Linked DNA regions of Homo sapiens. The protein of the gene in region 4 interacts with the protein of the main gene of each other region in a biochemical or structural test. Each region holds a gene or a part of one and is shown on either strand. Other genes may lie near its edges.

What was found.
Region 1: the proteins of TOPBP1 (region 4) and TICRR form a complex in vitro, tested with the Homo sapiens proteins (2 studies listed by BioGRID).
Region 2: the proteins of TOPBP1 (region 4) and ZBTB17 form a complex in vitro, tested with the Homo sapiens proteins (one study listed by BioGRID).
Region 3: the proteins of TOPBP1 (region 4) and MUTYH form a complex in vitro, tested with the Homo sapiens proteins (one study listed by BioGRID).

What each region holds. Positions count from the first base shown.
Region 1 is NC_000015.10:89,570,460-89,579,045, forward strand, and holds the start of TICRR (treslin), read left to right. Parts: upstream 1-5,009; 5' UTR 5,010-5,127; coding exon 5,128-5,781; intron 5,782-8,586.
Region 2 is NC_000001.11:15,940,481-15,945,407, forward strand, and holds the end of ZBTB17 (zinc finger and BTB domain-containing protein 17), read right to left. Parts: intron 4,723-4,927; coding exon 4,457-4,722; intron 4,360-4,456; coding exon 4,217-4,359; intron 4,121-4,216; coding exon 3,820-4,120; intron 3,416-3,819; coding exon 3,328-3,415; intron 3,236-3,327; coding exon 3,119-3,235; intron 3,040-3,118; coding exon 2,919-3,039; intron 2,715-2,918; coding exon 2,584-2,714; intron 2,259-2,583; coding exon 2,049-2,258; intron 1,962-2,048; coding exon of another isoform or gene 1,941-1,961; coding exon 1,851-1,940; intron 1,773-1,850; coding exon 1,489-1,772; 3' UTR 1,389-1,488; downstream 1-1,388. UniProt on the Homo sapiens protein: Transcription factor that can function as an activator or repressor depending on its binding partners, and by targeting negative regulators of cell cycle progression.
Region 3 is NC_000001.11:45,329,482-45,337,675, forward strand, and holds part of MUTYH (adenine DNA glycosylase), read right to left. Parts: intron 5,487-8,194; exon of another isoform or gene 5,346-5,486; intron 5,031-5,345; coding exon of another isoform or gene 5,025-5,030; coding exon 4,910-5,024; intron 4,153-4,909; exon of another isoform or gene 4,123-4,152; coding exon of another isoform or gene 4,081-4,122; coding exon 3,932-4,080; intron 3,844-3,931; coding exon 3,804-3,843; intron 3,690-3,803; coding exon 3,616-3,689; intron 3,479-3,615; coding exon 3,437-3,478; intron 3,354-3,436; coding exon 3,282-3,353; intron 3,207-3,281; coding exon 3,093-3,206; intron 3,008-3,092; coding exon 2,910-3,007; intron 2,830-2,909; coding exon 2,685-2,829; intron 2,606-2,684; coding exon 2,542-2,605; intron 2,369-2,541; coding exon 2,180-2,368; intron 2,076-2,179; coding exon 1,939-2,075; intron 1,854-1,938; coding exon 1,701-1,853; intron 1,077-1,700; coding exon 1,035-1,076; intron 588-1,034; coding exon of another isoform or gene 585-587; exon of another isoform or gene 408-584; intron 1-407. UniProt on the Homo sapiens protein: Involved in oxidative DNA damage repair. Initiates repair of A*oxoG to C*G by removing the inappropriately paired adenine base from the DNA backbone. Possesses both adenine and 2-OH-A DNA glycosylase activities.
Region 4 is NC_000003.12:133,651,568-133,659,761, reverse strand, and holds part of TOPBP1 (DNA topoisomerase 2-binding protein 1), read left to right. Parts: intron 1-611; coding exon 612-746; intron 747-1,820; coding exon 1,821-1,964; intron 1,965-2,904; coding exon 2,905-3,086; intron 3,087-4,275; coding exon 4,276-4,472; intron 4,473-6,237; coding exon 6,238-6,417; intron 6,418-7,132; coding exon 7,133-7,299; intron 7,300-8,194. UniProt on the Homo sapiens protein: Scaffold protein that acts as a key protein-protein adapter in DNA replication and DNA repair. Composed of multiple BRCT domains, which specifically recognize and bind phosphorylated proteins, bringing proteins together into functional combinations.

The DNA.
Region 1 (8,586 bases), on a different chromosome or scaffold from region 4:
TCTAACTGCATACACACCTGGCATCTCCGCTTGGAGGTCCATTAGGTATCTTCAAGCTAACATGGGTTAACTAGAACCTTTGATATTCTGCACCCTCCTTCCCATCACTTCCTCACTGAGTCTTCTCCACCCTTCATTCCATTTTCAGCCCTAAGCCTAGAAGTCATTATTCTGTTCCACAATCTGTTTGCAAGTTATGTCACCTCCACATTCAAAATATTATATATCCAGAATTCAACAACGGTTCACCATATCCATCACTTGTACCAAGGCCACCATCATAAGCAGACCAGCGGTTTCCACATTTATTTGGTATTTTCCCTGATGAAGACAGAATTATACTTTATGTAATTTGAAATATATAGAAATAGAAGCTGACCCTGCACCCCTAATATATGTATATTTACTAACTGGCAAATTATATGCAGATACCTACTAATATGTATTATAAAACATAAAATAGAAATTTATAAAGGATGACATAAAGAGAAAATAGGCAGTTTTTAAATGTCTTACTAATTGTGATAGCTTCATATGATCATTTTACCTAACATCTCAAGGCACAATATACACTTAGGTAAGGTTTGTGATTAACTATAATAAAAACACGCATTTCAAGTAGGCTTTTTATTTATTCCACATTTCACTTGGACACAAGTGTAAGATTTGATCAAATTGTCTTTTTTAATCTCAAAGTGTGGCTAAAAAAGATCTCATACTAGGAAAACAAGAATGTCAGATCCACCATTTTCATGTGATTTGCTTGTGATTGTATTGTTAATATTAATAATACAACTTCCAACATACGACTTCTTAGCAGGAATCTTGTAAAGCCACTTTTTCTTTTTCTTTTTTTTTTTCTTCTTCTTCTTTTTTTTTTTTTTTTGAGATGGAGTTTCGCTCTTGTTGCCCAGGCTGGAGTGTAATGGTGCGATCTTGGCTCACCACAACCTCCGCCTCGCAAGTTCAAGCAATTCTCCTGCCTCAGTCTCCTGAGTAGCTGGGATTACAGGCATGCGCCACCACGCCCAGCTAATTTTGTATTTTTAGTAGAGATGGAGTTTCTCCATGTTGGTCAGGCTGGTCTCGAACTCCCAACCTCAGGTGATCCGCCTGCCTCAGCCTCCCAAAGTGCTGGAATTACAGGCGTGAGCCACCGCACCCGGCCACACTTGTTCATTTTTTGAGACTCGTTTTAGTTAAAACTCAATTGGATAATCCTTCAATCCATTTAATCAGATTAATGAAAAATGCAGTAGTCACAAAACACTGGTACCCAATGAATGAGTGCATTGTCAGATAAAAAATAAGAGAAACGGAAGTTCAATATTTTCTTCCTGCACCCAGTGGGTTGATTGCCTTGGGCACTTCTTTGTGTGTTAGCTCTTCCCTTTGGAAAACAGTCCCCAACATGGTCTGCAGCATGTCCTCACAGGTCTCACTGCTTCATTCTTGCCCCTACATATTCAATTTTCCACCTAGTAGCCAGAGCGCTCTTCTCCAAACACAAATCATATCAAGTCCCTCCCGTCCTCAAAACCTTCCCCTGGCTTCCTAACATTCTCAGTAGAATATCCAAGCTACCTCTGTGGTCTCCAGAGCCTCTCACTGGCCCCACTGCCTCCCTGGCCTTTCTCTCATCCCACCACCTGCTCACCACCACCCAGCCCCACTGCCCCACTGCCCTCCTTCCATTCCTCAAACTCTCTATGTTCCTTCCTGTCTGGGTGTTTCAAAGATGCCCCAATCACTTTTCCTCCCTGCTCTTTCCTGTCCCTATCTCACCCGCCATTGTTAAACTCCTGCTTACCCCTAAAATCTCAGTTTAAATCTCACTGCGTTAGGTTGTTGCTTATCCCTTAACACCTCAAGGCACAATATACATTTCAGTAAGGTTTGTGATGCAATATGTCACAAAATGCAATATGTGAATACATTAAAGTTTAAACAAAAATCTTAACCAGCTCACCCATTGTAGTCCCTTATCCTATGCTTCACTTTCCCCTTAAAATTCTTTTCAGACCGGGTGGTGGCTCATGCCTGTAATCCCAGCACTTTGGGAGGCTGAGGTGGGTGGATCACCTGAGGCCAGGAGTTCCAGACCAGCCTGGCCAACATGGCGAAACCCCATCTCTACCAAAAGTACAAAAAATTAGTGGGGTATGGTGGTGGGCACCTGTATTCCCAGCTACTCGGGAGACTGAGGCAAGAGAATTGCTTGAACCCGGGAGGTGGAGGCTGCAGTGAGCCAAGATCACGCTGTTGCACTCCAGCCTGGGCAACAAGAGCAAAACTCCGTCTCAAAAAACAAAACAAAACAAAACAAAAAAACCTCTTTTCGGAAAAAAAATTTTTTTCATATTATGTTCATCTGTATTATTATCTGTCTAATGTCTGATCCCCTACCTATTAGACTGGAAATTCCATTAGGGCAGGAATGGTGCCTGGTATATAGTAAGTGTTGTTGGATGAGTGAAATGAATGACTGGCATAAGGATGAAAGGTGTTATGAGCTGAGCTGTGTCCTCCCAAAAAGATATGTTGAGGTCCTGGCTGGGTGCAGTGGCTCACTTCTGTAATCCTAGCACTTTGGGAGGCCGAGGCAGGTGGATCACGAGGTCAGGAGATCGAGACCATCCTGGCTAACATGGTGAAACCCTGTCTCTACTAAAAATACAAAAAAAAAAAAATAGTCGGGTGTGGTGGCTGGCGCCTGTAGTCCCAGCTACTTGGGAGGCTGAGGCAGGAGAATGGCGGGAACCCAGGAGGTGGAGCTTGCAGTGAGCCAAGATCGCGCCACCGCACTCCAGCCTGGACGACAGAGCGAGACTCCATCTCAAAAAAAAAAAAAAAAAAGATATGTTAAGGTCCTCCTATCCCCCAGCATCCCCCAGAATGTGATCTTATTTGAAAATAGGGTCTTGTAGAAGTAAGCAAGTTAAAATAAAGTCATTAGGGTGGGCCCTAATCCAACATGACTGGTGTCCTTATAAAAGGGAAGTTTGGACACAGAGACAGCCATGCACAGAGGGAAGATGACGGGAAGACACACAGGAAGAACACCAAGAATTGCCAGCAAACATCAGAAACTAGAAGAGTCAAAGGATGATTCTCCCCTAGAGCCATGGGGGCTGGAGGGGAGCAAGTGCATGCCAACACTTTGATTTTGGACATCAAGCCTTCAGAACTGTGAGGCAATTTTTGGGTTTGATCCTTTGTTATGGCAGGCAGCCCTAGAAAACTCAACCAAAAGAGAAAATTGTTGTACATGAGGCAGTAATTGCTGAGGACTTTGATTGGAGAAGCCAAGGCACATAAAGGAAGTTGTAGCCAAAGCATATAAAGGAAGTTGTTCTGTTTCCAGGTGGAAACAGAATTACTTAGCAAGCAGAATTCAATGGTGTGGAGTATTGGATCAATCTCCCTAAACACATATTCAGGTAACCGACCTTCATTTTTTGTCCCCTTCTTCTTTCCAAATACCATATTCCACTGATCCTAGAGGCACATCTCACATCTCTGAAATCAGCCTGTTCACTGGTGTCCAGCAAGAGGAAGTGTAAAAAAGTTTCAAAAAAAATCACATGGAGAGACCATCACAGACAACTTCCGGTACACAATATTATATTAACAGTTTAAAAATATGCATATAAATGCATTTCTATCTATATATAACTTCTATCTATGATTATCTATCTATATATAATTCCTTTTTTTTTTGTTTTGTTTTTTTTTTTTTAGTAGAGACAGGGTTTCACTGTGTTAGCCAGGATGGTCTCGATCTCCTGACCTGGTGATTCGCCCGCCTCGGCCTCCCAAAGTGCTGGGATTACAGGCGTGAGCCACCGTGCCCGGCCTATCTATATATAATTCTATGTATTCTATCTATATAGCGATATATAATTTCTATCTGTAATGCAAATCTACATGTGATTTCTATCTATATATACATGTAGATAGAAAATTTAGGGAATTCACTGCAGGTGCTGCTTGCAGTCCACTTTTAAAACCTAACATTACATAATAAAACACTATTTTAAGAAGCTGCACTAGGCCGGGCTTGGTGGCTCACGCCTGTAATCCCAGCACTTTGGGAGGCCAAGTCGGGTGGATCACAAGGTCAGGAGTTTGAGACCAGCCTGGCCAACATGGTGAAACTCCGTCTTTACTAAAAATACAAAAATTAGTCTGGGGTGGTGGCGTGCGCCTGTAGTCCTATTCAGGAGGCTGAGGCAGGAGGATCGCTTGAACCCGGGAGGTGGAGGTTGCAGTGAGCCAAGATCGTGTCAATGCACTCCAGCCTAGGAGACAGAGCGAGACTCCGTTTCAAAAAAAAAAAAAAAAAAAAAAAAAAAAAAAAAGGAGCTGCACGATGCTCCCCTTGGGCGTGTACCATACCTTATTTAACCATTCCCAAACTGTTTCCATTTTTTCTGATGTTAAATAAACTCTAAGATGTACAGACGTCTTTTATCTGGCTCTCCGATTACCTTCTGCAGATAAACTCCTAGAAGTTACTGGGGCAAAGGGAGTGAACCTTTAATTTTTAATAAAATTTTTTAAATTACAGAAAAAGCCGTAGTCGTCAGATTCTACTTCCTAGGCGGTCCACAGGGATTTCAACAAGTTCGATTCAAACCATCCCAAATTCCCTCCCGGCACTAAGTTTTCCTCGGTCTTGGGAAACGTGGCCCCGCAGTCCGCACTCACGACTGCGCACAAACGCTGGCCTCTTTCCAATGGCGAAACTTCTCGACACGCCCCCGAGGCACCACCTCTTTAAAATTTAAAACGAAGGCCCAGGCCAATGAATGCTAAGCTTCTCTCGGACCACAGAGACCCGCCCACCGTCACTCCCTCCACCAATCAGACTGAAGTTTTCTCCACTGCCCCTCCAATCACCGCCAAAAATGGAAGTTGCTCTCGTAACTTACGTAAGGCAAGCAGCCAATAGGAGCAAACCTTGGAAACTAGCTCCCCCAATAGCAGCAGTTCCTGGAGAGCGCGGGAGCCTTTCGACCAGGGTCCCAAAGGAAAGCAGTGAGTGGTGCTGTTTCCCTGAAGGAAGGGACTAAGGGACGGTGGCGCGGGCCCGGACCGGGGCCCCGGGGCGGCGGCACGGCCGATATGGCATGCTGTCACAAAGTAATGCTGCTGCTGGACACCGCGGGCGGCGCCGCCCGCCACAGCCGGGTCCGGCGGGCCGCCCTGCGCCTCCTCACCTATCTGAGTTGCCGATTCGGCCTGGCCAGGGTCCACTGGGCCTTCAAGTTCTTTGACTCGCAGGGGGCGCGGAGCCGGCCGTCCCGCGTGTCTGACTTCCGCGAGCTGGGGTCCCGCTCGTGGGAGGACTTTGAGGAGGAGCTGGAGGCCAGGCTCGAGGATCGCGCCCACCTGCCCGGCCCGGCGCCCAGGGCCACCCACACGCACGGCGCCCTGATGGAGACGCTGCTAGACTACCAGTGGGACCGGCCCGAGATCACGTCGCCCACGAAGCCGATCCTGCGGAGCAGCGGGAGGAGACTGCTGGACGTGGAGAGCGAGGCCAAGGAGGCCGAGGCCGCGCTCGGGGGCTTGGTGAACGCCGTCTTCCTCCTGGCCCCCTGTCCGCACTCGCAGAGGGAGCTGCTGCAGTTCGTGTCTGGGTGCGAGGCCCAGGCCCAGCGCCTGCCGCCCACCCCTAAGCAGGTGATGGAGAAGTTGTTGCCCAAGAGAGTCCGGGAAGTCATGGTCGCCCGAAAAATCACCTTCTACTGGGTGGATACCACCGAATGGTCTAAGGTAAGGAAGGTTACTGTCGTCTCAGATGGCGTGCACGGTGCTTTCCTTGCTAACCAGAACTTGGCAGCGTCCTTAGAACAGCCACAGACCCCGAATGAGACTAATATGACTATGCGTCCCTTCGGAAGGAAACAAATAAATAGGAACAGTTTTCACAACAAAATGGGTAGTTCCTCACTACCTACTGTTTAAGACCCCTCACAATTTGGGCCCTACCTGCCTTCCCAGACTTGATTTTCCTACACACTACATCTACTCTAGCATATTGAAGTCCAGTCCAGAAAATCAACAGGTCTGGACTGCTTGTTTTGTGTTATGTGTGTTGTTCAATCTGCCTGGAATGCCAGTTCTCACTCTTCCAGGCCAGTCTTAACTTCACTTACCCTTTAAGGCTTCTTCTCCCAGTGACAACTGCTCAGTCCAGCGTCTGAATTGCCATACACATTTTGTGTGGCACTTAACCATTTCTCCATATGTTTTGATTATGCACATCTCTCACCCTCCATCTAGTCTAAAAATACCTCAGAGGCAAGCAGCAGGTTTTAACACAATACCCAGGGGTGTGTGTGTATGTGTGTGTGTATATATATATATATATATATATATATATATATATATATACACACACACACATATATATACACATTTATTTATATACATATATATATTTATTTATTATTATTTTTTGAGACAGTGTATGTCGCCCAGGCTGGAATGCAGTGGCTCACTGCAACCTCCACCCCTCCGGGTTCAAGCGATTCTCATGCCTCAGCCTCCCAAGTAGCTGAGACTACAGGCCCACGCCACCATGCCTGGCTAATTTTTTTGTATTTTCAGTGGAGACCAGGTTCCATGCTGCCCAGGCTGGTCTCAAACTCTGGCCTCAGGCAATCCGCCTGCCTTGGCCTCCCGAAGTGCCAGGATTATAGGTGTGAGCCACCACGCCCAGCCACCCAGATGTGTATTAAACGTTGTAGGTGTTCAGTCAGTATTGGCTGACTAAATGAGTACATTCTTGCGTACATTCTTGCAAACTTAAAGTCTTAAATGGCTAATTTGGATTTTTGCTGAGGCGGTGAGGCCCCCTGCTCCTGTTAAGTGCTAGGATAAGTATATACTTTTGCCTTCATCCTTCTCATTGCACTTCATTTAGTCAACAAATGTTCATTGAGAAGCCAGTAACATCTGAGTGCCTACCACACTGTTTGAGCTGCTGGGGACATGGTAACCAAAGCAGGGAACAGATTAAACAGATAAGCAAGTGACAATTTCAAATCATGCTCTGGAGAAAATAAAATGGGGTGAGAGGATGGGAGTAGAAGGTGGTTATTGTATACAGAGTGGTAGTGAGGGAAGGCCTTTTTTTTTTTTTTTTTTTTTTTTTTTGAGACAGAGTCTCGCTTTGTCACCCAGGCTGGAGTGCAGTGGCGTGATCTCGGCTCACTGCAACCTTCACCTCCTGGGTTCAAGCAATTCTCCTGCCTCAGCCTCCCAAGTAGCTGGGATTATAAGCGGGCGCCACCAGGCCTGGCTAATTTTTTTGTATTTTTAGTAGAGACGGAGTTTCACCATGCTACCCACCCTGGTCTCAAACTCCTGAGCTCAGGCAGTCCGCCAACCTCAGCCTCCCAAAGTGCTAGGATTACAGGCATGAGCCACCGTGCCTGGCAGGGAAGGCCTTTTTGAGCAGAGAATTGAATGGTGAAGGAGGAGGAACTCAAAGGTAGGTAAAGAACATTCCAGGTGAGGAGACAAGCAGGTGTAAGGATTTCAGCTGGAAATGAACTTAGTTTGTTTCAGAAACAAAAAGGCAAGGAGTGCTGAGACCTAGTAGGCAAGGGGAGCAGTGTGAGAGAAAGTCAGAAAGCAGGAGAGGCCGATCTGTAGGGCCAAGGTCAAAAATGTGGATTTTGTTCTAATTAATTAATGGGAAGGCTTTGGAATGTGGTTTAACCAAGTGAAAGATGTGATTCCACTTAATGGAAATACATGTCACTAACCCAGGAGTGAGTTAAATTGCAAGATTACAGATGGAAAATGAGCAAGCATTTAAATAATAATATGGTATGTTAAAATTTTCAAAGTGCTTTCACATGCGAAGCCCAAAAAAGGCGTGGCAAATGCAAAATAAGGCAGCAGTGGTTTGTCAAGAAAAGGAAGGGACAAAAAGTGTTTAAGGGGATGGTAAACATTTGATGGGGAAAATGAAATCCTAGATATATTAAAATTTAAGGCAGCCAGTCAAGCCTTAGACACAGTATACAACACATTGCTCAGCTGGAAACAATTGATATCACATCAAAGACTTTCTTCTGGAATTTTATTATGTTAAATACTGGCTAGAAATAAGTTAGATGGGGCTTGATGGATCTTGGAGATTCTTTGTCTCTCTTTTTTTCTCTTTAATCTCTCTCTCTCTTTTTTTTTTTGAATAGCATTGAAATAAGTGGGTTGACTGGATCTTTTTAAAGATCCCTTCCAGGTCTGATGTACCGTCGACTGAGGGGATGGGTCATCTCTGAGGCTTCCCTTCTTACATCGGCTGTATCCCCTAAGAAAATGCCCATCAGATACTCAAGTTTTTCTGGAATTTTCTTCTGCTGAAGATCTATCATTTTCTATTCAAAAACCTGCCCAGCCATGCTGGGCAAAAGGAAGGTTTGGGCTGTGTCCTTGGGGAGTGCTCTGTCCAGGAGCAGGGAGAAGGGAGGAAGAGAAAATCCAGGTCCTGCCTTGGGGAGCGTGCAGTCTGGGAAGTAGAACTGGGAGAAACAGAACCTGCACTTACATTGGAGGCAGAGGGAT
Region 2 (4,927 bases), on a different chromosome or scaffold from region 4:
TGGGTGGGAGGACGAACCATGGGTCCTTGGCTTATGGGAACAGTCAGCCCTCATCCCGCTTTTGATCCCCATGCCAAGTCTGTACATGGGAACTGTTTCCCTTCTGCCTCCTAGTCAGTCAGTCCTCCTCCCCAAGGATAATTTTATCTTGTACAAAGGAGATTTTTGTCACGGACACTGAACTTAACCATTTCTCACTCTTGTGGTGTCTTCAGAGTCCTAACTGGTTCTTAGGTAATGTGGAAGGAAGGCACTTCCAATTTTGATACAGAATATAACCACACCCCATGCCATCTCAGAAACATTTTAGCAAGCTTTGGTTTCTTGTCTCTCTCTTGCCCCCTCTTCCCTTCTCCCAGTGTGAAGCAGGCTGACTCCTGCAGAGGCAGTGGCCTCCTGGGGCCCCTGGGGGCTCATTTGATCCCGTCTCTGCCTCCAGACAGGAGAATGGGAGTTGGGGACAGGCTTCCCCTGCAGCTGGATTCTCTAGAAGCTGTGGAGTTGGGACAGGGACATGGGGACTATAAAGTTGGTGGTCTCACTTGGAATACCAATGGGCTCCTACAAATGGGCCTGTCCTGGTGTGAGAAGATAGCATCCCCCTCTGAACGGTGGGCCATAGATGCCGGGGCCACTGTGGGGGGACGAGATGGTACCTCCTGACTCCTTGCTGACAGGAGTGAGAAAGCTGTTCCACCAGCTCCCTACCTCCCCATCAAAGCCCCTGGCTGCTCCTTCCTGTCCCTCTGGGCCCCCAGCCTGGTGGCAGAGATGCCATCTTTTGAACCTTCCCAAAAGATGATGGCACCGGCTTGGCCTTAGTCCTCGGGCCAGGTAACCCTGAAGCAAGTGTGGCTTCCATCTGCTCCCTTAGGCCCATCAGAGCCAGGGCAGTGGCCTGGGCCTGGCACTCTCCTTGGCCTACCTTGCCACTCTGGCTGGAAGGACCCCTGAGCCAGGCCTGGCAGCAGTGGCCTGTGAGCCAGGCTCGCTCTGGGTTGCCTGTACCCTGGTAAGCAGTTGGTGGCCGCCCCTGCTGGTCCCTTCCCCAACTTCCCAACCTCTCCCCAACCTGGGCCGAGGGGGAGCAGGGTCATAGCTGTGGGGCGAGGGGAGGCCAGGCCCTAAAGATGAACAGGTGAGAAGCCTCCAAACAAGATGGGATGAGGGCATGGGGCACGTGGTGCCGAGGTCTCTCCAGCCTGAGTGTACTGCCCACTCCTCAACTTGGGGCAAAGCAGCCAGCCTGGCTCTGATTCTAGTCGCATTCAGCAAGAGGGACGGGCTGACCTTCCCAGGAAGGCTGGTTCCTGGGTGGTACAGCCTTTCTGTGGCATCAGTTGTAGCTGCCAGCTCCCCACCCACCCCACAGGGACCTATAGGCAGCATTAGAAAATAATCCAATTTATTCTCTCTAGGGAACAGGCCACCCTTCCCGGTTCCAGGGTGCCATCCATCCTTAAATAAACAGTCAGAAGGGCCGCCAGCTCACTCGGCAGGCGGGGGACATTCAGGAGCTGTAGGGGAGGTCTCTGCCAGTGCGGGCTGGCCCTCAGCCCCGTCGCGAGGGCGGAAGACCAGCTCCCCAGCCTGCAGCACCTGCCCGGCAGGCCACGTGCCACCTGGCCCATACTGCTGATAGAAGTCCGCGTCTGTCTGGAACATGACCAGTGCCTGGGCTGTGTGGATTCGCACATGCTGAGCCAGGCTGTTGGCATCCAGAAACTTGTCCCCACAGGAGTCACAGGCGTAGAGGATGTGAGTGTTGGGGTCTGTGGAGGTGGGGCAGCAGTCAGAGTGGGAAGGACCCCGGGCTCTGCCCACATTCACACCCGGGTGGCCCCCCTCACCTTCTTCCTGCACTTGCTTCACAGCTTTGCTGATCTCGGCCTTCAGGACTTCCGTCTCATCGGCTGTCACTGCAGCTCCCACCGGCACCACTGCGGGCAGAGTCGCAGGGCCTAAGGTGAAGGCACGGGCACTGCCCCATCATCGCCACCCTGGCAGCAAGCTGCCTGTGACTTCCCTCTGCTGCCCACAGCCCGCACCTGTGAGCTGAGTGACGGCTGTCGCTGCCAGTGCCTCGGTAGCCAGCGTGACCATGTCATCCACAGTGACCACGCTGACCTCACTGCCCTCCTCGGGCTCCAGGATCTTGATGCCTGCCTTGCCCTGGTGCACGGTCTTCACGTGGGAGCGCAGGTTGTCTACCCGGTTGAAGCCACGCCCACACTTATCACACAGGTAAGGCTTCTCTCCTGGGGGAGCAAGGTTCTCTCTTGCCTTTGTGGGAAGGGGCCGCAGGGATGGGGTGGGAGGCCCTCAATGACTCGTTTGCCCAGCAACCCTGTCTTTTACAGCAGGAGGTGCTCTGGGGTGGCTGCACGGGTGCCTCTGGTGACACTGGCACCTCTGGAAGCTCTAGGAAAATGGGGTCCTCATTTGAACAGAACTGCCTTCAAGGCCACCTGCAGCAAGAGCTAGCACCCGAGGCTGGGGTCTGGGGGGTCCCTTCCTTCCCCCTGCTCCCCACCTGGCAGCAGGGCCTGGGAAGGAACAGGCATGGTAGGGGCCACAGCTCACCAGTGTGAATGATGATGTGCTTGGACAGGTCCCCCACGTTCACGAAGGCCTTGCTGCACACGCTGCACTTGTGTGGGCGGATGTTGTCGTGGTGGCGAATATGATTGGCCAACTGGCTGGACTGGACGAATCTGTGGGGCCACAGGAAGGGACTCGCATGGAACTGCCCCAACCTGGGCCTCCTGCCTCACCCTCTAGACTGAAAAGGACCCCTAGGACCAGAGCCTGGGGCGTGGGCAGCAGTCAGCTCAGTCCCCAGCCAAGCCCCCAGTTTGTCTTCTGAGCCCCCTCACTGTGGGGTGTCTGGCCAGTGGGTGTGGGGGAGGGGGCAGGACCTCTTGCCGCAGCGCTCGCAGACGTAGGGCTTCTCCCCGGTGTGCTGGCGCACGTGGGCGATGAGGGAGCTGGCCTGGGTGAAGGCCTTACCGCACATCACACACTGGCATGGCTTCTCACCTGGGGACCGGGCAGAAGGTGTTGGTGCCTGCTCCTCTCCGTGCCCTCCCAGTCCTGGGCATGGCCGCTCACCACCCACCTGTGTGAATGCGGACGTGCCGCTGCAGAGCGCCGGGGTCTGCAAACTGTCGCTGGCAGTGGATGCACACGTAGGGCTTCTCCCCGCTGTGGATCCGAAGGTGCCGCTTCAGGTTCCCTGTGGCGAGACCGAGGGCGAACCTGGCGTGGGGCACCACCGGTGGCCGAGGAGCAGGGGTGTGAGGGCAGCCAGGGCAGCCCTGGCCCTACCTGAGGTGGTGAACTGCTTCCCACACTCTCGGCACTTGAGGGGCCCGTCAGCGATGTGGATCTTCAGGTGGGCCTTCAGGTTCCCTACCTGTGCCCAGGGAGGGGTCAGGGGGGCCACCCCACAGAGCTCGGCCCCGGGCCCCCTCACCTGCCCCTCCCACAAAGGAACAATTGACTCTCAGGCTTGCCAGGGTCCGTGAAGGGCTCTATCTCTCCTGGGTCAGGAGAGGTCCCAGGTCCCAGCGGTGAGAGGTAAGCCGCCCCACCCCATTTTTTCAGGACCAAACCCCGCCCTGAGTCGGCCTGCCCTCCGCAGAGCAACCGGGAGCTCCCCCGCGGAAGTGGCTCTCGCTGCGCCTGTTTCCTGGGTGAACAAGCTGATGAGCTCCTGGAGGCCGGGGCTGTGCTCCCCGCCCGCCCCACCACGTGGCATGCATGCGGCTGCGGCCACCGGCGGCTGCCAGGCGCTGGTTCCGGGAGGGGTCCGCACACCTGGTTGAACTTCTTGTCGCAGTGTGGGCACTTGTGCTCCTTGTCCGTGTCGTGGGTCTCCAGGTGGCGCATCTTGGAAGTGGGGTCGGAGAAGGAGCGGCCGCAGTAGTCGCACTGGTAGGGCTTCTCGCCGCTGTGCACCAGCTGGTGGCGCTTGAGGTTGCCCGAGGTGGTGAAGAGCTTGCCGCAGTCCTCGCAGCGGTAGCGCGCCTCGCCCGAGTGCCGCTTCTTGTGCAGGTTCAGCAGGCTGATGAGGCGGTAGCTCTTCCCGCACTCCTCGCAGCCGTAGGGCTTCAGAGGGCTGCAGGGCCAGAAGGCGACAGGAGGCAGGGCTCGCTGGGGCGTGAAAGGCCGGGCCTGGCAGGGGCCGGGGTAGGAGGCCGGCTTGGGGCAGTACCTGTGCGTCTTCTCATGGGCCTTGCACGCGGCCGGGTCGGAAAAGGCCTTGCTGCACTCCCGGCACGAGAAGGGCTTCTCCCCCGTGTGGATGCGGATGTGCCGCTTGAAGTTCCCCGTGTGCGTGAACTCCTTCCCACAGTCCTGTGGGTGCAGCGGGGAAGCGGGGTGTGAGGAGCAGCCGGTGGGAGGCCGGAGGGGAGGGACGCTGGCTGGGAGGGCTGGCCATAGTCTCCCTCACCTCGCACTTGTGGATGACGGAGCCGTAGGCCTTGGACTCCGTGCGGTCGCCGTAGGTGCCTGAGCGCAGGCCCCGGGCCTCGGAGCCGAGCTCCTGCCCCGAGTCTGTGCCCGCTGACTCCTCATTCTCGTTCTCCTCGGGGGCCTCTCCGTTCTCCAGCTGGGAACCCTCCTCCTTGACCTCAGCTGGCCCTGCGCCCTCCTCCTCTTGCTCCTCTTGCTCCTTTTGCTCCTCTTCCCCTTTCCGGGCGGGCTCCACCTCCATTTCTGCGGAGAAAAGGGCAAGCATGGAGGCGGCAGCCCTCTCTGCCTGAGCGCACGTGAGGGGCGCCGGCAACATGTGGAAGGGACAGTAAATGGCCCCAGCACTGGCCAAGGAAAGCCCCCGGGGGGGCCTGTGAACTGGGTATTTGCTGCTTGCGGGATGCAGGTAGGGGGCTTAGCCAGCTGGGGTGGGCGCTGTCGGCCAGCA
Region 3 (8,194 bases), on a different chromosome or scaffold from region 4:
GGAGCAGAGAATCCTCTCCTTGTCCTCTCTCCCTTTCCCCGACTCTACTGATCTAGCTAGGCTTAGCCTGGAATGCTGTAGAGCTTTCATCCTGCCTCAAGTATCTGCCCCATCAATCAACCCTCCAAAAGGCTGCCTGAGGGAATCGAATTGTCCTAAAAATGCAAATCTGACTCCTCTCTCCTCCACCTAAAATGAGTCAGCAGCCTAGGGCTCACACCCTGACTGACCCAGCAGGCCCTGCTGACCTTTCCAGCTAAACCAACTGCTCACAGCTCCTTGAGCACTGCAGCCTGCACTGGGCTCCACCTTTGCTCACACTACTCTTGGGACTGGAAAGAACATCGCTACGGTTGATTCCCCTCCCAAACCTGAAGAAAAGGATTCATTTCTAGGACGAAGATTACCAGCTGCTTCCTCCAAACAGCCTTTCCTGATCCGTCTCCCAATTAGAACTGATAGCTCCCATGGATGGGTGTGGTGGCTCACGCCTGTAATCCCAGCACTTTGGGAGGCCAAGATGGGCAGATCACTTGAGGTCAGGAGTTCGAGACCAGCCTAGTCAACATGGTGAAACCCTGTCTCTACTAAAAATACAAAAATTAGTTGGGTGTGGTAGCAGGCACCTGTAATCCCAGCTACTTGGGAGACTGAGGCAGGAGAATCGCTTTAATCCAGTTGTGGGAGATTGCAGTGAGCCGAGATCGGGCCACTGCACTCTAGCTTGGGTGACAGTGAGACTGTCTCAAAAAAAAAAAAAAAAAAAAAAAAGAACTGATGGCTCCACAATTCATATCCCACAAAACTCAGTACAGGCATTTCACACACCTGTGACACTGGAGAGTCCTCATCATTTTTTTCCTTTCCCTCTACCCTGCACCCCACAATGGAAGGTCTCCAGGTCAAGAACTATTCCTCCCTCCAGTGAAGCCTGGAGTGGAGAATGTTCACCCAGACATTCGTTAGTTAACTGACTAAAAACCTATGGACTCAGGCCTGGGGAGACACGGTTGGGAGAGGCCTAGGAGACTTACCATACAGGTCCCTGGCTGTTGGCCCTGATACACACGGAAAACCTAGACAAGAAGACAGGGAGGTGAGGGCTGGCACTTTTTGCAAAAGAGATAAACCGGTGTTCTGCCCTTAACTTCATGTCCCAGTACTTTTGTTTAAAATATGCTTTTTTGGCCAGGCATGGTGGCTCACGCCTATAATCCCAGCATTTTGGGAGGCCAAGTCGGGTGGATCACTTGAGGCCAGGAGTTTGAGACCAGCCTGGCCAACATGGTGAAACCCCATCTCTAAAAATACAAAAAATCATGGCTGGGTGTGGTAGCTCACACCTGTAATCCCAGCATTCTGGGAGGCTGAGGCGGGCGGATCACTTGAGGTCAAGAGTTGGAGACCAGCCTGGCCAGCATGGTGAAACCTCATCTCTACTAAAAATACAAAAATTAGCCAGGCATGGTGGCGGGCGCCTGTAATCCGAGCTACTCAGGAAGCTGAGGCAGGAGAATCACTTGAACCCGGGAGATGGAGGTTGCAGTCAACCGAGATAGCGCCATTGCACTCCAGCCTGGGCAACAGAGCGATTCTCCGTCTCAAAAAAAAATGCTTTTTTTCCTGTTTACACAGTAATATATTCATGTAGAACATGTAGGAAACACAAGGAAGTACAACAAAGACAACAAAGGTAGTGCCTTTTTCATGGCGGTGGAAACAGCTGCGGTGTGAAATTCCTCCTGCGTCAGCCAGCGAGCACCTGGTGGTACGGTGGTCACTGGGGTCTGCCCTTCCAAGGCCAGCCCATATACTTGATATGTCAGCTTGATGTGAGAGAAGGTGTGGACAACCTGGAGGAAGGGTCAAGGGGTTCAAATAGGCCTGTGGATATAGCCTCAAAAGCCAACATCCTTGGCTATTCCGCTGCTCACTTACCTCCCCAAGGTGCCGGAGGTGCGTGGCTGGGAGGGGCCCAGCCCAACGCTGTAGTTCCTGCAGCAGGGCCTTGCGCTGAAGCTGCTCTGAGGGCTCCCAGGTCACGGACGGGAACTCCCACAGTCCTGCCAGCAGACCTGAGAGGGAGGGCAGCCAGGCAGGGGTCAGGCCTCAGCTGCCGATTCCCTCCATTCTCTCTTGTTACTCATGCCACTGCCCTCCACGCCCAGTATCCAGGTACCTGAGTTGGGCCTCTGCACCAGCAGAATTTGGGCCCCAAGGGCCCCAGGCTGTTCCAGAACACAGGTGGCAGAGCTCTCCTCCCTGGGGGGCTTGCGGCTGGCCTTTCTGGGGAAGTTGACCACTCCCAGGGTCTGGTCCCAGGGCTCCGAGGGAGGCAGGCACAGGTGGCACTGTCCAGTGTTGGGAGCTGGGAACGGAGATCCCCGAACCCTACTCAAGCCAAGAGGGCTTTAGGGGCCAACCTAGAGAGTGGGCTTTGGCCGGGTTCTGCAGAATCTTACTCAGGTTAGAGGAAGAACTGGAATGGGGCTTCTGACTGGGCCAGGAAGGGTTGGGGTGGGGGCTAGGTTTGGTGCTCACCACACTCCTCCACGTCAGGACTGCCCGACAGGCTCCCTGAGGCTAAGAGCTGTTCCTGCTCCACCTGAGAGGCACAGGGTTGAGTGTCATAGGGCAGAGTCACTCCTTAGGACTTCTCACTGCCCCTTCCCCAGTAGGCTTACTCTCTGGCGTGCCCGGCACAGGCTCTCCACAGGGCACTGGCTGCACAGTGGGCGCTGTGGGGTACACACTGTGGCCCCTAGCTCCATGGCTGCTTGGTTGAAATCTCCTGGCCGGGCTGGGTCCACCAGCTGCTGGGCTAGACCCCTAAAAGAAGGGAACACTGCTGTGAAGCAGAGCTCCTTTGCAGACACCCCTGAAGCACCCTTGTTACCCCAACATCCTACCAGAGCTGCTGGGAAACAAGGGTGCTGCTGGGATCAGCACCAATGGCTCGGACACGGCACAGCACCCGTGCTACGTTGCCATCCACCACACCGGTTGCCTGGCACAGAGGGGCCAAAGAGTTAGCCTGGGCTGGGAGGAAGGAGGCTGGGCACGCACAAAGTGGGGGTGGGCTGTGAGATCACCTGGCCAAAGGCGATAGAGGCAATGGCCCCAGCTGTGTAGCGCCCCACGCCAGGCAGGAGCTGCTGCAGGGTCTCTGCTGTACGTGGCATGTGGCCCCCTAGCTCCTCTACCACCTGATTGGAGTGCAAGACTCAAGATTATAAGACACCCAAGACTCCTGGGTTCCTACCCTCCTGCCATCCCCTTACCTTCCGAGCTCCCTCCTGCAGCCGCCGGCCACGAGAATAGTAGCCCAGGCCAGCCCAGAGTTGATTCACCTCCTGTGGGTAGGATCAGAGGTCAAAGAGATCACCCGTCAGTCCCTCTATTGTTCCTATTTCCCCTACCCTAGGGTGGCTCTCACCTCCAGGGAAGCACTGGCCAGGTCCTGCAGTGTAGGCCACTTCTATAGCCACAGGCAGGCAGAAAGAGACAAGGTCAAGGGTGAAGGTGGTAGAGGAAGCCTTCTCTACACCCACCCCAAAGTAGAGGCTCTCATCTGGGGTCTGACCCATGACCCTTCCCTTCCTCCCCTGGAGTCACCTGCATCCATCCGGTATAGTAGTTGATCACAGTGGCAACCTGGGTCTGCTGCAGCATGACCTCTGAGACCCACACTGGGGGAAAGGGGTTGGCATGAGGACACTGCTGACCTGCCCCTACCTGGCCCACAGCCCCCAGACCCAAGGGCCTCGAGGCAAAGTGGCCCTGCTCTCAGGAGATGTACTGACCAGCATATGCCCGCCTGTCCAGGTCCATCTCATCTTCTGCCTGTCAATGCAACCCCAGATGAGGAGTTAGGGTGGAGGGGGCTGGGTGCCTGCCTCCCACCCACTGTCCCTGCTCCTCGCCTGCCTACCCGTCTTCTCCATGGTAGGTCCCGTTTCTCTTGGTCGTACCAGCTTAGCAGGCTCCCTCGGAAGGCTGTGACTTCAGCTACGTCTCTGAATAGATGGTATGAGGAGACAGAGGCCTGCAATACCACCTCTTCCGGCTGCCTGGCCAGGCCTGCTGGGGCCCCAGGACACTCAGCAATCATCCCTGCACAGGCTGTGCATCAGGGTCTTGGGACACAGCAGCCTGTGGCAGTATGCTCCCACTTAGGGCTTCCCCCAACTAACCCCCTTAAGCTTTGGAGCTGGAGTCAGACCAGAGTTATGTAATTGTGTGTAGCTGTGGCTAAGTTTCTGGCCTTAATTTTCTCAGGGTGGTACTACTGGCTTGTCTCTGAGCCATAATGAAAACCTAATAGTTTTAGCCAGCTAGAATGTATACTGGTGCAGGACCTTCCTATTCACAAAACACTTTCAGGCTCATAAACTCATTTGGTCCCATGAAAGCCACATGAGGGAGGAAATGCTGAACTACTGCTCCATTTTACTGGTAAGAAAGCAGCCATTCAGAGCAATTGTCCCAATGTCACACAGCAATACAGTCAGAATTACACCCTCAGTGAGTCTCTTTTGTTTTGAGACAAGAGTCTGGCTCTGTTGCCCAGACTGAAATGCAGTTGCATTATCTTGACTCAGTGCAACTTCTGCCTTCCAGGCTCAAGCGATCCTGTCACCTCAGCTTCCCGAGTAGCTGGGACTACAGACGCTCACCACCACGCGAGCATAGAGAGGGGATTTCGCCATGTTACCCAAGCTGGTCTCAAACTCCTGGGCTCAAGGGATCCACCTGCCTCGGCCTCCCAAAGTGCTGGGATTACAGGTGTGAGCCACCGCACCTGGCCCTTAGTAAGTCTCTTAATGTCTTGATACGTATCACAATCCCTTCCCAGCCTGAATCTGCCTTTCATGGCCAATGAGCCTTGGGCCACAACCTAGTTCCTTACCATCACAGGCAGAAGGCTTGGCCTGACTGTTGTTCTTAGCATGCTTCTGCCTCCCTTCCTGGCTGGCTGCCTGCTTCCTGTGACCACTTCCCACGGCTGCTCGTGGCTTCCTCATGATGGCCTGAAACAAAAAGACCCAGCCAAAGCAGTCAGTCACAATGAGGCCAAATTTTGAGGCCTTCCAAGGGTGATAGCTATCTCCCTCTCATCCACCATTCACATGGGGTCCAGCTTCTCTCAAGCACTCTCAAGATGCTCACGGGTTTACTCTTGGCTGGCTGCAGCACTGAGATACAACTAGTATAGCTGAGCAAGTGGCCTCAAGGGGGCCGGCGTTACAGCCCTGGAGACATGCAAAGACTGTGAGGCCAGGGCTGGGATGGGTCAAGGATGAAAGCCTCCTGTTTGGGAGCATTTGTGTATCTCTGATGCTTACTGTGACTGTGTGTGTGGATAGGGGTTGTTTAGGTGTGTCTGGGAGAATGGGGGTAGGCGGTTTCTCTGCCTCTTAGAGATGTAGCATGGTTACACTGAAACAGCCTGTAGTAGTCATTAAGTCCAAAACCTTCATTTTATCCTAGAAGAAACCAAGGATCAGAGGGACAAAAGATCTGTCTGAGAACAGATGGCAAATCAGTGGGAGAACAGAGATTAGCTATTTTTATTCCTAATCTAGTAAACCATAGGTGGCTGACCATCAACAATGAGAAAATGTGCCTGGTTGATTTTCACTGCTCCCTAACTGTTATAATGGCCGCCTTTTCTCTAACAGCTAAAATTAGTTGATATTTTGTGAGTGCCTACTCTATGTCAGACCCCATGAAGAGCTTTACCGGATCTCTCAATCTCCTGGTGACTCTATGAGGTATGTACTAGTATCACCTCCACCTTAGTTATAAGGAAATTGAGGTTTATGGAGATTAAGCGACTTGTTCTTTCAAATCCACGACCAGCATTCTTATACTGTGATAAAATGCAGTCCCTGCTAAGCCTCTGTATCAAACTCTCCCCCCAAACCTTTGACTTTACCACCTCATTTTCATCAAAAGAGCTTGCCTCCTCCTTCAGAAAAAAAAAAACCAACTTCAAATCTACCTCCATTTGCACTGTCTTACCCTCCTCCTCTTCAGGGTCCTGCTCCTCCAATCCCGTCTAACTGTTGGAACTCAGAAACTAATACCCCAGGCCAGGCACGGTGGCTCATGCCTGTAATCCCAACACTGCGGGAGGCTAAGGCAGGCAGATCACTTGAGGCCAGGAGTTCGAGACCAGCCTGGCCAACATGGCGAAACCCCATCTCTACTAAAAATCCAAAAAAATTAGCCAGACGTGCTCGCTTGAACCCAGGAGGCAGAGCTTGCAGTGAGCTGAGATCATGCCACTGCACAGCCTGGGCAACAAAGACAGAGCAAGACTCTGTCTCAAAAAAAAAGAAAAGAAAAGAAACCAATACCCCAAAATATGGCCCTCTGACATGCTGAACTCAAGAAGCCGCAAGGTCTCTCTGATCCTTCCACCCCAGACTCTCCCAAAGCCAGGATAAAGTTGTTCTCTGGAACTCTTTATCTGCCTAAAGTCCAAACTCACTAAAAAGAATACTTGTTTTTTCTTCCCCTCCCAATAAGACTAACATGTAACCACACCTGAACAAACCCTTTCACAGGTATTGTGTACCTCAGGATCACTCAAATTCCAAAGAGAACTATTAACAAGTCAACCTCTGTCCCCATTCCATTCTCTCTAGTAATCCTTTATTGCCCTTCAACAGAATCTCCTTCTGGCCAAAGTTCGGTTTATTTAAAAACAAATAGAGCTGGACATGCTGGCTCAGGCCTGTAATCCCAGCACTTTGGGAGGCCAAGGCAGGAGGATTACTTGAGCCCAGGAGTTCGAGATTAGGCTTGCAACATAGCAAGACCCCGTCTCTACAAAAACAGAAAAACAGAATTTCTCTTCTACCCCTTGTCAGGCCTCTGAGCCCAAGCTAAGCCATCATATCCTCAGTAACCTGCACTTATACATCCAGATGGCCTGAAGCAACTGAAGATCTACAAAAGAAGTGAAAATAGCCTTAACTGATCACATTCCACCACTGTGATTTGTTTCTGCCCCACGCTAACTGATCAATGTACTTGGTAATCTCCCCCCCACCCTTAAGAAGGTTCTTTATAATCTCCCCACCCTTGAGAATGTACTTTGTGAGATCCACCCCCTGCCCCCAAAACATTGCTCTTAACTCCAATGCCTATCCCAAAACCTATAAGAACTAATGATAATTCCACCACCCTTTGCTGACTCCTTTTTTTCAGACTCAGCCTGTCTGCACCCAGGTGAAATAAACAGCCTTGTTGCTCAGACAAAGCCTGTTTGGTGGTCTCTTCACATGGACACACGTGAGACACCCCTCCCATAATCTGTTTTGCCAGATGGTATATAAACTCACGAACTCTGTAGGGAGATGGGTAATCACTTTATGGTTCTCCCAATGTGCATGTTAATAAATTTGTATGCCTTTTCTCCAGTTAACCTGCCTTTTGTGAGCTGATTTTTCAGCAGATCTTCAGAGGGCAAAGGGAAAGATTTTCCCCTTGGCTCGTAACACAATCAAATCCCACCCTCCTTCCCTTCATAGCCAAACTTCCTTCACCAAACCTGCTTACTTCCACATTCATTCTACAATCTATTCTCCAAAGAGCAAAGGAATCTTTTCCAGATCACGTCACTTCCTTCCTTATAACCTTCAATGGTTTCCCATTCTTTTTTTTTTTTTTGGGATGGGGTCTCACTCTGTCACCCAGGCTGGAGTGCAGTGGTGTGATCTTGGCTCACTGCAACCTCTGCTTCCTCGGCTCAAGCAATCCTCCCACCCCAATACCCCACCCCAACTCCAAGCAGCTGGGACCACAGGCGCACACCACCACCACATCCAGCTAATTTTTGTATTTTTGTTAGAGACAGGGTTTCACCATGTTGCCCAGGCTAGTCTCCACCTCCAGAGCTCAAGCAATCAACCCGCCTCGGCCTCCCAAAGTGCTGGGATACAGGCATGAGCCACGGCGCCTGGTGACACCCCATTATATTCTTTTATTTTCTTTCTTTTCTCTTTTTTTCTCCCTCCCTCTTTCCTTCCTTCCTTTTTTCCTTTTTCTTTCTTTTTTAAATACTGTAGGCCTTTACTATGGGTCATTAAATTCTTGAGCAAGCTGGTTGTGGTGGCTCAACACTGTAATCCTGCTACTCTGGAGGCTGAAGTGAAGAACAGCTTGAGCCCAGAAGGTCGAGGCT
Region 4 (8,194 bases):
ATACGTATTTTTAAATAGAATAGACTAGAAGGGTAGAGGAAGGGTATTTGAGAAAGCCTGATTAGGATGGGCATCTCTGGGGAGGTGACATTTAAGCAGACCTGATTGAAGTGGGGGATTAAGTCAGGTGAAAACCTGGAAAAAAAGTATTCTGTGCTGCAAGATCAAGAGCAGAGCCTCTAAATGAGGTTATGGTTGGCTTGTTCCAGGGTTGGCAAGAAAGCGGGAGTGGCTGGAATAGAATAAGCAAGAGAGATGAGAAGTAGGAGGTAAAGGTGGAAAGATAGGCAGGAAACCAGACTGTGTTGTCTTGAAGGCTGTAGTAAGAAATGTGGATTTTATTCTGGGTGTGGTGTGAAGACATTAGGTTTTGAGCAGATAGTGACATGATCTGACTTGTGTTTTTGAAAAGATTATTAGCTGCTGTGTAGAGAACAGATTTAGGGCAAGGAAGGGAAAAAGAGACCACTTGGGAGCCTTCTGCAGAGGTCTAAGTGAGATGTGATGGTGGCTTTCAATAGGGAAAAGGCTGGATTTGAGATGGAATTTGAATAGGACCTAAATACAGGAGAGTAATTTCAGGTACATTCTTATTTTATTTTTTCTTTCAGTCCATAAAAGAATTCCAATCAGAAGAATATCTTCAGATTATTACAGAAGAAGAGGCATTGAAGATAAAGGAGAATGATAGATCACTTTATATCTGTGACCCTTTTAGTGGCGTTGTCTTTGATCACCTCAAAAAGGTTTGCTGACTTCTAGTGTGTACCTTTGGTAGTCTATTTTTTGGTTTATCTTTGCTTTAATGGACATACATTCTTTGCGGATTATAAAGTACTATGCAACTTATGAGTACATTGGAATTCTTTTGGTTTGGCAAGACCAGGATTGAAAGGCTAATTATGTTACAGTAGGCTTTTTTTGTTTGTTTGTTTGTTTTTGTTTTTGTTTTTTGGAGACAGAGTCTTGTTCTGTTGCCCAGGCTTTAGTGCAGTGGCACAAGCTCAGCCCACTGCAACTTCTGCTTCCTTGGTTCAAGTGATTCTTGTGCCTTAGCCTCCTGAGTAGCTGGGATTACAGATGTATATACACACCCGGCTGATTTTTTTATTTTTAGTAGAGAAAGGGTTTCTCGATGTTGGCCAGGCTGGGCTGGTCTTGAACTCCTGCACTCAAGTGATCCTCCCACCTCAGCCTCCCAAAATATTGGGCTTATAGATGTAAGCAGTAAGGCAGTTTTCAGTGAAAGGGGCTTTTGAAGTTTATTTCTTTTCTTTTCTTTTTTTTTTTCTTTTGTTATAGGGTCTCACTCTGTCGCCCAGGCTGGAGTGCAGTGACGTGATCTCAGCTCACTGCAACCTCCGCCTCCTGGGTTCAAGCAATTCTCTTGCCTCAGCCTCCCTAGAGACTGGGACTGCAGGTGCCCGCCACTGCACCCGACTAATTTTTGTATTTTTAGTAGAGACGGGGTTTCACCATGTTGGCCAGGCTGGTCTCGAACTCCTGACCTCAGGTGATCCACCCCCGCTCGGCCTCCTCTGAAGTGCTGGCATTACAGGCGTGAGCCACTGTGCCTGGCCTGAAGTTTATTTCTTTTGATAGCTTGCATTGTTTGATTTGCTTTTGTGTGTGAGTGTTTAATGTATAGTATCTCTGAGAAATTATATAGTCATCTTTATTTTTTTCTTGTAATGATTTGCTGATTTCTCTACAGTGGTCATCAACTTTGGTAAAGAATTGGTGAATGTTACAAAATGTAATTTTGTAAGACTGGTGGTCTTTTCCTTCTTAACTCATTTAAACTTTTCTCTTTTTTGTAGCTTGGCTGCAGAATTGTTGGTCCTCAAGTAGTCATATTTTGTATGCACCACCAGCGATGTGTCCCAAGAGCCGAACATCCAGTTTATAATATGGTTATGTCTGATGTAACCATATCTTGTACAAGTCTGGAAAAAGAAAAAAGGGTAGATATTGATCTCATGATGATTGATCAATTTATATATCTATCTCTTATTCTTAATTTTTCACTGCATAGAAGATAGCTTAAAAGACTTTCCGCTTATTGTTCGTGACTTTTAACAAAGTTCAGTATACAACCACAGTGTGTATATATGTATACATGTACATTTTTTAAGTAAATTGAATATAGTAGAATTTGTTTTGTTGAAAACTGGCTAATTGAAATTTTTTGTTTTAATTTAAAAGGACACTCATTTTTTAATCACTTACATTTTTCCACTATAGGTGGACAGTCTTTAAAAAAAAGGATTCTAAATCGTTTGAATCAGGGAGGTGGAGGTTGCAGTGAGCCAACATCACGCCACTGCACTGCAGCCTGGGTGACAGAGCAAGATTTCGTTTTGGAAAAAAAAAAAAAAAAGCATTCTAAGAGAGAGCTATAGAAATACATATATATATTTGGGACAGGGTCTTACTGTCACCCACGCTGGAGTGCAGTGGCACAATCACAACTCACTGCAACCTTGATTTCCTGGGCTCAAGTAATCTTCATGCCTCAGCCTCCCGAGTAGCTGGAATTACAGGCATGCACCACCAAGCCTGGCTAAAAATAAATATTTATATATTATATAGATATAATTTATGTTGTTAAAAATACACATGTATATTTATATAGAAGCAAAGATTAAGATTTATACATCCTTTGTATAATAGTTTAATACATTCATGGAGTTGAAAGGGATAAATATAGGAAAATAATATTTTAAAAATATAATTCATACTTATCTCCCAAAAAATAATTTGGTTAATTATTTAACTTTATAATGTTATGTAACACTTATGTATTCAAACTGTCAACAGCAAAATGTATTTATGAGATAGTGTATAAAAGTGGAAGCAATATTGTTTGCTTCAGCATTAATGTGTTCTCTTTTGGGGCTGCAGGAAGAAGTTCATAAATATGTACAAATGATGGGCGGACGAGTATACAGAGACCTTAATGTATCAGTAACTCACCTTATTGCAGGAGAAGTTGGTAGCAAAAAATATTTAGTTGCTGCAAACCTGAAGAAACCTATTTTGCTTCCCTCTTGGATAAAAACACTTTGGGAGAAGTCACAAGAGAAGTAAGAAAGACATTTTTATATTTTCTAGATTTGAAAAAATGATGCATTCAATCATTTTTGGCATGTGATATACTCTTTGGACTTACTATTCAGGGAAAAAAATAGTGTCATTACTCTTTTCTCCAGCGAAAACGGAAGAGCAGAATCTACAAGCTCTTATTACCAAGATATAAGTTGACAGGCATAGAATGGGCCAAGGGTTTAGCATTAGCTACAGAGTAGGAAATGCTTTGGTGATAAAGTTCTCAGCTGTAAATATTTCTGAAATAATTGAGAAAACGAGTTTGGCAATTCTGTAGCTTTTATGTTGCATTATCCTTCAACACCATTCCCATATGTTAAGATAGATAATAAATTAGTCATTTTGGCAGTTGCATTCCTTCCAAAAGATGGCATATGTAAGGTTGAATATAAACATATGCAAGTCATCAGCTGAGATGTGATCATTTAATAAATGCTAATTGAGCCCATTTTACGTATCTGACTTGAGGTAGGCATTAGGTATATGTAGTAAGCAAAACAAGATAGTCACTTCCCTCATGGAGCTTAGAGCCTATTTCAAGGGGCACACTTCAGTTTCCCCTGCAACTAGATAAACAACCACAAGACCAAACACCACAGAATTGTATTGGCATACGAATTATATCGGCACTTTTCTGGGCTTGTTTTCAACACCATCCAGCATATCCCAAATATGTCTCCATGTCAGCAACTCTCATTCCCAATGTGATTACTTCATCAGCACACCTCCCTAGCATGGCAACAGAATAATGATATTTTTGTTGGTATTTTGCCAAAAATCATTGCTTTTACTTGTATAGAATAATGGAAAGATTAAAAAGTTCATTTATCTAATAGGCAACCAAATTACCTTTGGGTTTTTAAGTAGAGATTCAGACTTATCATTTTGGAAAATATACTATGACCAGCAAGGGCTAGAGTTAAGGAAATATATATTTTTCCCTTAAAATGGTTTTGAGAGACTGTATCTGAAACAATTACTTTGTTTTAGAGACATGTTATTGAACTAGGTGAACAATTAGTGTAATTCTGTTTTGGTGGTTCTCCTTTGTAAAAAAAAGATTATAAATCCTAAAAAATGAGGGAAGCAATAGTGATATTTGTGTTGTTTTTCATTATTCTTCTGGTAAATTTAATATGTTCTTTTTTAACCATTTGATTCCCACAGAAAAATAACTAGATATACTGATATAAACATGGAAGATTTCAAGTGTCCTATTTTTCTTGGTTGCATAATCTGTGTGACTGGCTTATGTGGCTTAGACAGGAAAGAAGTTCAGCAACTCACAGTTAAGCATGGAGGTCAATACATGGGACAATTGAAAATGAATGAATGTACACACCTCATTGTGCAAGAACCAAAAGGTAAAACTGTGTTTCACAAAGGGACAAATGAAACATTTTCTCTAGTATTTAATATTTTATTTTTATTTATTTATTTATTTATTTTGAGACAGAGTCTTGCTCTATTGCCCAGGCTGGAGGGCAGTGGCACAATCTCAGCTCACTGCAACCTCTGCCTCCCTTGATCAAGCGATTCTCCCAACTCAGCTTCCCGAGTAGCGGGATTACAGGCACCTGCCACCACGCCTGAATAACTTTTTATTTTTAGTAGAGACGGGCTTTCACCATGTTGGCCAGACTGGTCTCTAACTGACCTCAATTGATCTTCCCACCTCAACCTCCCAAAGTCCTGGGATTACAGGCATGAGCCACCGTGCCCAGCCACTAATATTTAATATTTTAAAATCTTTACAGAACAGCTTTTACTTCTGACATGTCATTAATCTAGTTTGATACTGTTTTCTCTAACATCTTGCAAAGATGTTTTCTCTAACATCTTGCAAAGTTTTAACTGGAAGACACACCTTGCGGCACATGAGGCAGTAAAAAATGAAAAAGACATTACGAACAAGAAAAATTCTTTAAAATTGCTATTAAGTTTGGTGTTACATAACATTATTCTGGATAATTTTTTATCAGCACTCTTAAAATATACACAAATTGATAAAAGATGAGTTTTGTTAATGTTTTTATTATTGCCCTTTATATGTATACTGTGTTTTACTAAGCTATCTAGATTGAGAAGAAATTACGATTAAATGGTAATTGTCCTTAAGTCAGAACTTTGAGTATGGCTGATTGTGATAGGATCACTGTGAGTAGAGTTGATACTGCTGTTCTTTTTCTGAATCTGAAGACAGTTCATTGTTGATTCTCTCAAGAATGCCAAAAAACCTTTCATGTGACATATTGACCTCAATTCCTCTGTGATACTGCTTCAAAATACATTGTGTTGAAGATTTTTAAGGTAATAAAAGATACATATTTTCAATATAATTTATCTTTTGGCTTATCTATCCTGGACTTTAAGTAGAAGCCTGTTGACATTGGAATAGTCTGTTCAAAGTTGGGATTTATTATATAGCACAAATTTACAATTTTCACATTGTACAAGCTGGTTTAAAGAAATTAAGTGATGGAGCCTATATGCAAACCCAAGTCCAATATTAATTAAGTTACCCCACAGTTGCTTCTGTCTTCCTGCAGTTTGTATAAAAGATAAAACCTCTCACATGGCATATGTATTTATACTACACATAGAAAATATAATTAGGCAATAAGCTAAAATACTACTTTGTAATAAACTGTGTAGCATACTGTTTAAGAGTAAGTACTGGTAACTTTAATTTTGTTGATAGGTTTTTGAAATAACCTGTTATAGCCGGGCGCGGTTGCTCACGCTTGTAATCCCAGCATTTTGGGAGGCCAAGGCAGGCGAATCACCTGAGGTCAGGAGTTTGAGACCAGCCTAGCCAACATGGTGAAACCCCGTGTCTACTAAAAATACAAAAAAATTAGCCAGACATGGTGGCACACGTCTGTAATCCTAGCTATTCAGGAGGCTGAGGCAGGAGAATCGCTTGATCAGGAGGGAGGTGGAGGTTGCAGTGAGCCAAGATCTCACCACTGTACTCCAGCCTGGGCAACAGAGTGAGACTCCATCTCAAAAAAAAAAAAAAAATATTAACCTGTTATAATTTGAATATTTCTGCAAAGATAGATTGTAATGGTTTTCATTTCTTGGTTTCTCCTATTTTCTCTATTTCTTTCTTAATGAACGCCACAGGTCAGAAGTATGAGTGTGCCAAGAGATGGAATGTACACTGTGTGACCACACAGTGGTTTTTTGACAGTATTGAGAAAGGTTTTTGTCAGGATGAATCCATATACAAGACAGAACCTAGACCAGAAGCAAAGACTATGCCCAATTCTTCAACTCCTACCAGCCAGATCAACACAATTGATAGTGAGTCTCATTGAGATTAAAATAATTATTCTGAAGACAGTCATATTTCTATGTAATAATCAGTATGTTAATAGGATCACTGAGATAGGGAATTTCTTTTTCTTGTTTGCTGTGCTTCTAGGCATAATTGTATAATAGTCAAATTGTATAAAAAGTTAGCACTGAACTGTTCGTAATTTTCTTTTAGAATGAATGAATGCTGTCTTTTATACTCTGTTGTAATGCAAAAGATGATCAAAGAAATTAAGAACAATGGTAGCTGGGGGCTTAAGATAAAAGTATTAATCTTTTAAACATTACATGCATATATTAATCTTTCCTTAATTTACAGTTTTGCTGCAGTTATAGATCATCTGTATTTGTATAAAAATTAAAACCATTTCTATTTTGTAGGTGTCGTGTTGGCAAAATGTTTAAAATATTTTTTCAAATGTAAGCTTCTTGGACCTTAAAGTCAGCAACTTCAGATTTTTATGGGAAACAAGACACTATTAAGAAAATGTGTTAAATCTATTTTCATTTAAATAAGATAGGAGGCTTAATTAATTTCATTTTCCCTTTTTATACTTTGCCACTAAGATTTCAGTAAACACCCCTGAATCTTACTTTGGAAGTTGTTTATTGCCCTATATTTGTAAGAAAAGTTAATCCATAGACAATATGTAATCATGATTATTTTATCTCCCATAAATTTATACGTTTTCAAAATATGTAGGTCGTACTCTTTCAGATGTCAGCAATATTTCCAACATAAATGCAAGTTGCGTAAGTGAATCAATATGTAATTCACTTAACAGCAAACTGGAGCCTACACTTGAAAATCTAGAAAATCTGGATGTCAGTGCATTTCAAGCACCTGAAGATTTATTAGATGGTTGTCGGGTACGTCTTTATTATATAATACATGCAGTAGATGATATACATTAGCATTTCCTAGCCTGACTTTGAAGACCCTTCAGAGTTGGGCTTGCTCCTTACTATCTATGTAAACCCTCCACTCTAGCTAAGTAGATGCACTTACTAGACCATGTCCATCCTTTGGCTGCGAGAGTCCCTCTGCCTGCAAGGTATCTTCCTCTGTTATCTTTTAAAAGTTCATTTCAGGTTTTAACTCTTCTCTGAACCCTCCTAACTACATTAATCTTTTCATCTGCTATATTTCGAGAGCACTTAGTTTCTGAACAACTTATTGGATTTTTTTTTTTTAATTTTTTTGAGTTAGGGTCTCACTCTGTTGCCCAGGCTGGGATGCAGTGGCACAATCATAACTTCCTGTAACCTTGAACTCCTGGGCATCAGCCACCCCTCAGTCTCCCGAGCAGTTAGAACTACAGGCATGTGCCACTACACCTGGCTAATTTTTAAAATTTTTTTGTAGAGACAAGGTCTCACTATGTTGCCCAGGTTTGGACTTTAAACTATCATCCAAGTGTTTACAGTGTATTAGACACTGTGCTAATCATTTTATGTGTGTTAATATATATATAAAATCGCATTTAAGTCCCACAAATAACTCTAAAATGGATATTATCTTGAGGGTAAGACTTAGAGAATTAAAATTCTTGTTCAGAGTCACACAGAGAGACATTAAGTGGCCAGTTATCTACTCCAAAGTCTGTATTCCTCACCATTAGAGCCACTGCTTTGTTTGGTATTTCTTGGGTTATTTAGTTTTTTAGTATATGAATAACTGTCTTATAAGTTTGTTGATGGAAACAGCATATGCTATACTTTTTCCGCTGTCTTAGATTGGAATACTTAATGTATTCCTATTTGT